Homo sapiens: one gene and its partner. The protein of the gene in region 1 interacts with the protein of each later gene in a pairwise test. Each region holds a gene or a part of one and is shown in the gene's direction. Other genes may lie near its edges.

Evidence for each region.
Region 2: the proteins of EHD2 (region 1) and TBC1D23 interact in a two-hybrid assay, tested with the Homo sapiens proteins (one large-scale study listed by BioGRID and IntAct).

The regions. Positions count from the first base shown.
Region 1 is NC_000019.10:47,719,906-47,723,562, forward strand, and holds part of EHD2 (EH domain-containing protein 2), read left to right. Parts: intron 1-3,657. UniProt on the Homo sapiens protein: ATP- and membrane-binding protein that controls membrane reorganization/tubulation upon ATP hydrolysis. Plays a role in membrane trafficking between the plasma membrane and endosomes. Important for the internalization of GLUT4.
Region 2 is NC_000003.12:100,322,817-100,325,847, forward strand, and holds the end of TBC1D23 (TBC1 domain family member 23), read left to right. Parts: intron 1-770; coding exon 771-852; 3' UTR 853-2,422; downstream 2,423-3,031. UniProt on the Homo sapiens protein: Putative Rab GTPase-activating protein which plays a role in vesicular trafficking. Involved in endosome-to-Golgi trafficking.

The DNA.
Region 1 (3,657 bases):
GAGGAAGAGGAGGAGAGAGTGTCCAGCTGTTGGTGTGTATATGTGTGTGTGTGTGTGTGTGTGTGACTTTGTGTATATCTTGGGAAAGTGTGTCATTATGAGTGTACTCCTGGGTGTGGTGGTTCCACGCATTTGTGTATAGCAGTGGACGTGCCTCATTGTGGCCATGGCTCTGAGGTTGTATGACTTTGAATTGTGTACATGCCTCTGTGTGTGTGTGTGTGTGTGCGCATGTGCCTATAATTGTGGCTGGAAGACTTTGTTTTGTTTGTTTTTGAGACAGAGTCTCACTCTGTCGCCCAGGCTGGAGTGGAGTGGCGCGATCTCGGCTCACTGCAACCTTTGCCTCCCGAGTTCAAGTGGCTCTGCTGCCTCAGCCTCCTGAGTAGCCAGGACTACAGGCGCCCGCCGCACCCATGTCCGGCTAATTTTTGTATTTTTTTTTAGTAGAGACGGGATTTCACCATGTTGGCCAGGCTGGTCTCGAACTCCTGACCTCAGGTGATCCTCCTGCCTTGGCCTCCCAAAGTGCTGGGATTACAGGTGTGAGCCACCATGCCCGGCCTGCTGGATGACTTTGTGTGACTCTGAAGGGCTGTGTAGGGCTATGAGAGACTTTGTGGGATAGTGTGCAACTGATTCTGTCCCTATATACTGTTATATTGTGACGTGTGTGTGTGAGAGAGACAGACATAAAGGGCAACTTTTGTCTATGTGTCTATGTGGATTTAGTGTGTATCATTGTAGGTGTGAGTCTGACATTGTGTGCCTGTGTGTGAGATGGTCTAGGCATATATGTGTATCTGGGCTGTGGGCTGTGTGTGACTTTGTGTGGCTGCATGGGGCGGTCAGGGCTGCGGGGATTTTGTGGGACTGTGTGTGACTACCTGTGATTGTATCTCCGGATACAGTTGTGTGCTTCTGTGTGGTGTTGTGTATGTGAGAATGTGTGTGTGTGCAGGAGTGCATCTTTTGTGTAACTGTGTGTGATTACGTCTGTGTGTGTGCCTTTGGATTTGGGAGGGCATGGGAGGTTATGTGTGTGCGACTGTGTCTGTGTGGGTGTGCATGCATGTGTGCCTCTGTACCTGTGTGTTCGTGCAGGTCTCTGTGTCTATGCCGTGTGTGCATCTCACATTATCTTTGTGATTGTGTGACCACAAACATCTGTGTAGGTCCCAGATTGTGAACACGGGTATGTCTGGGAGCCTGCATCTTGTAGTAATTGGCTATGTTTGTGTCTGGATGTGCTACTGGGGGTGTGTGTGTGTGTGTGTGTGTGTGTGTGTGTATGCGAGCTCATGTGTGTGGCTGCCTCTGCATGTAAGATGTGTGAACACACGCATGTGTGATTGTAGCATAGTAAAGCCCTCAAATCTGGGCTCTGCTACTTTTATTTATTTATGTTATGCTACTTTTTTTTTTTTGAGATGGAGTCTTACTCTGTCTTCCAGGCTGGAGTGCAGTGGTGCGACCTCGGCTCGCTGCAACCTCCGCCTCCTGGGTTCAAGCAATTCTCTGCCTCAGCCTCCGGAGTAGCTGGGATTACAGGCGCCTGCCACCATGCCCGGCTAATTTTTTTGTATTTTTAGTAGAGACGGGGTTTCGCCGTCTTAGCCAGGCAGGTCTTGAACTCCTGACCTCGTGATCCACCCACCTCGGCCTCCCAAAGTGTTGGGATTACAGGCATGAGCCACCGCCCAGCCTATTTTCTGCTGCTTTTAAACTGTGGGACCTTAGGCAAGCCACTTAACCTCTCTTTGCCTCAGTTTTCTTACCTGCAAAATGGGAATAATGGGCTGGGCGCAGTGGTTCACGCCTGTAATCCCAGCAGTTTGAGAGGCCAAGGTGGGCAGATTACCTGAGGTCAGGAGTTCGAGACCAGCCTGGGCAACATGGTGAAACCCTGTCTATACTAAAAATACAAAAATTAGCTGGGTGTGGTGGTGCTTGCCTGTAATCCCACCTACTCGGGAGGCTGAGGCAGAAGAATTGCTTGAACCCAGGAGGTGGAGGTTGCAGTGAGCCGAGCTCATGACACTGCACTCCAGCCTGGGCGATAGAGTGAGACTTGGTCTCAAAAATAAACAAACAGAAAAACAAAACACACACACACACACACACACACACACACACACACACACACACACACTGGGAATAATAATACTAGCGGCCTCATAGTTGTCCTAAAGGTTAAATTAGTTAAAACATACAAAGCACTTAGAAGGTGCACACTTGTGTGTGCACACAGTAGGCGCTATGGAAGTGCCAACAATGCCTGTTTTCGCTGGGTGAGTGCCGTTGTGGGCCCAAGGTTCCTTTTTGCCACGTCTCCCATCCCACACTGACTCAACCTCTCTCCCTTCTTCCCTCCCCGCCCCATGAGACACACTTTCCGAATCTGGGCCAGTATGTGTGTTTGTGGAGACACCGGGAGGGAGGGGGGGCTCCAGTTGCTGTCCCTCCAGTGACTTGGCCCTTCCTCCCCCAAAACAACGGCCCCCAACCCCATCCCGGTCCCTGCGTTGCCCGCAAGGAGGCTGCTTCCTCTCAGGCAGGATGGGTGCAAGCACCAGCTCCCCGGAGGAGCATAGGGGCCCATGGGACTCCTCTTCTGTCGCCTCTTACCTGTGTGTCTTGAGTAAGTCCCCTAACTTCTCTCTCTTTTTTTTTTTTTGAGACGGAGTTTCGCTCTTGTTGCCCAGGCTGGAGTGCAGTGGCAGGACCTTGGCTCACTGCAACCTCCGCCTCCTGGGTTCAAGTGATTCTCCTGCCTCAGCCTCCCGAATAGCTGGGATTACAGGTGCCCACCACCACACCCAGCTAATTTTTTTGTATTTTTAGTGGAGACGGGGTTTCACTATGTTGGTCAGGCTGGTCTCGAACTCCTGACCTCAGGTGATCCACCCGCCTCAGCCTCCCAAAGTGCTGGGATTGCAGGCGTGAGCCACCACGCCTAGCTAGTCCCCTAACTTCTCTGTGCCTCAGTTTCCTCATCTGGAAAATGGGGTCAGAACAGTGCCCACCTCCTGGGGTTGTTGTGAAGAGTCACTGAGTGAGCTCTAGCTGGAGGGCATGAAGTCAGTAAATCAGGGCTAGCTCCTTGTTCTGCCAGTTAACTCTTCGTCCTCCGGGTTCCCACTCTGCCTTCCCTCCTCCTGGAAGTCCTCCTTGACCCCCAGGCTGGGGGTTGGGTCAGGCACTGGCCCTGGGCTCCCACAGCTCCCTGGATCCCCCTGCCCACCCTGGGCTGACCACTCAGGGGCCAGGTCTGTGTCCCCAGTGGGCTGAGAGATGTAAGGACAAAGCTGAAACTGCCTCAGCCTCCACACACACAGCAGGGACCACAGAGGGTGCTTCCCAGTGGGTGACATCACCATGACTTGCTGAGTGCTTACCGTACATCCAGCACTGTTTTTAAAAAAACAGTTTCATTGAGGATTAACGTACACGCCATAAAAACTCAACCATTATGGCCGGGCTCAGTGGCTCATGCCTGTAATCTCAGCACTTTGGGAGGCTGAGGTGGGCGGATAATGAGGTCAAGAGATGGAGACCATCCTGGCCAACATGGTGAAAACCCATCTCTACTAAAAATACAGAAATTAGCTGGGTGTGGTGGCACCTGTAATCCCAGCTACTCGGGAGGCTGAGGCA
Region 2 (3,031 bases), on another chromosome or scaffold:
GATAAAGTAACTAGATTCTCTCTCTCCCTTTCTTCATTGATATTTATGGTTCTCTATTCTGCCTCGCATATAACACTCATAGATGATTTATACAGTGGAATTGTTAGGTTTTACCGAAGATGCTTTTTTAAAAAAATACCACTATTTTTATTCTCCAAGAAAAGAAAATTGACATTTAATCTATGGTGTTGATATTTTGCAATAGTTATCATAAGTCTTATCTTTTTTAAATATTTCAGACCTCATAACGCCATTTTATTATGTACATAACCCTCTGTAAAGTTTGGATAACTATAGCTACTTTTTATATAGGAATCTGTTTTAGTGAACTTAAATTATTTGCTTAAAGTCAAACTATTAAGTGTTGGAATTGTCATTGTCTTTGGAATTGGATACCAACAATTCATGTGTGATTTTTGTAGCTAATTGAAGGTACATCTGTATTGGGGAGTGGAATATTATATTTTTTATCTTGTGTTTTATCTAGCTATTACCTATATTTAATAATGGTTCAAAGAATTTTAGCTTTACACTATATGAAAAATCACATTGCCTTTGCATTTAGATTTTCTTTCGAAATAAGCTTTGGATTATGTTCAAATAAGCTATGGGAGTACATAGGAGGCATCTCTGCTGGCTTTGTGGGTTAGGGAAAGCTTCCCATTGGAGGTGACCTATCAGCTGAGTCTTGAAGGGAAAGCACTGTATTTTTATATACATATACATATGTATATATATATGTATATATATGTATTTTTTTTCCCCCTTAGGTATTTGATTCCAAATGCAGGGGATGCAACTAAAGCCATAAAACAGCAGATCATGAAAGTTTTGGATGCTTTGGAAAGTTAATATAAAAGAAAATTATATAAAAAGAAATTAAGACAACCAAGAGAAACATGGACATATACCTCCTGACTGAATACTAACTGGAGACCTTTCATTTGCTCATGGGGCTGCTTAAATAGCAGGTCTAAGAAAGTGTAAATTATTATAATCAATCTGTGGACAGTAAACTTTTTAAAAATTTTTCTTCTGCATTTTGGTTTTATAAAATGATGTATTATAAAGGTCAGTTATTAAATTACTTTGAAGTAACTGACCCTGTGCCCTTATGGACTAAGTAAGGGTACAGAATGCAGTTCTGTTTTGAAGAGCTGTTTTAAGGGAACATGCATCACTTTCGGGATCAAAAACAACTGTACACATACATATCTGCAGTGTCTTCACTGAAAATTAGAGATAGAATTAGTTGAAGAGACTTCCTTAATTGCTACATTGTTTTACTCACTGAGCAATATCAGAAACTAAAACATAGATTAATAATTCACTCACTGTTTCTATTCTTCTTAAAAAGAGTGAAATCTTTTTAATGGAATGGTTGAAGATTCCTGCCAACTCAAAATACAGTACAGCTAGTAAAATGTTGAAACATCAGTTTCTAAATCACCTTTGCTCCATTAGCTAATTTTTTGGACACTAAATGCTTCAAAGATAAGAAACTTCATCCTAATGATTTCTAAAGAGCAGTTAAAAGCATTAAAATAAGTAGGTAGGCTGTTAAGATTAAAATTAACATTTTGGGGACAGAATTGTGTCTGTAAAAATGTCATTGGTTTTATTACAAGCGGATTATTTTATTCATATTTTAAAACAAATGTTTAAGCCACATTGATTTATCCTCATTGAGGATTATGGTCTGTGACCACAGTAATATCCACTTATATAAATGCCAAATAATCAGAGAGCTTATAAAGTACAATTGTTTTTGTCATCATTTTCTGAATTTCTTTCTCTTCTTTTGGTTTTGTCCTCTCATTGAAGTTCCAGTGGTTTGAAATTAGTTTTGGACACATTGTCTTAATGTACTGAAAATTGCTCTGCTGTATTTTGCAGCGTTCTTCATTTAATTTATAATGGTCCATATTAGACACATTTGGTAAGAGAAGTCCAGGAACACATTTAGGGCCATGGAATAGTATTTTGTAAAATCCATTTGGGAAGTTGCAATACCCACAATCTGACATGTCCTAAAATGTAAGGGATTATCTCTAAGGGGTTGATGGGAGAAATATTTAGATGTACCCTGTTAACAGCCAGTCATTTTGATTTACTTATGGAAATCAAGTGAATAAAAGGCAACATAATTTGGGAAATTTTATTCTAATATCTAATAAAAACAGTTTGAGTGGTTGAAGACATCTGCATGAAATTGCACCTAGGTGCATTACTTGATATAACTCTCCCCTAAAACTGTTGTAATTGCATTTTTTCCCTTTTCTTGGCACCCCTTTAGAAATGTACTGAAGTCTCATTTTTCACCCATTTCAGCCATGGGACATTTTTCATAATATTAATGTAAAGATGTTTGTGTTACTGTTTATAAATTACAATTGTAAATAAATTACTAGTTTGCCCAAAACTTTGTTCTTAAAGACACTGTCTCTCTCTTTCTTTTCCCTATTTGCAAATCTCTTAAGGTCACAAAATTAGAGAATTGAAGGCATGTAGTAAGTTACCTACTACCATGAACTACACAGTTACAGGATTATTTATGACTATTAAATGAAAATACATTTCATTGACTGTTCTAGGCACTTGTGTAGATCATCCTCCCTTCACTGGCCCACTGACCACAGAGCTGGGAATCACTCTGGGGTGGCCACCTCTCATGGGCTCTTGTGATTGCAAAGGTTGCAACTTTAGGAGGTTGTTTTTTGTATTTTCAAGATAAGGAAACCAAGGCTCAAAGAAATTGAGTGAAAAGAGAAAGTATTCCTCTTATCTCCACACTCCTTGGAAATTATTTTTGTCTGTGAAGGTATACAATTATTTCTCCTATATAGGATTGATGCCATTTGCCCACCATTAATAAAACTTGGTCAGTATGATAAATTTGTATTGACATACTCAACCATTTTTGTCACTGGTATGTTTCACACAGGACCTTTAACTCCTTAGCACGATACTCTTACATTAGACTAACCAGCCATAAATTGGCAGTCCTAGTTAAAATTCATAGTTTGATGTG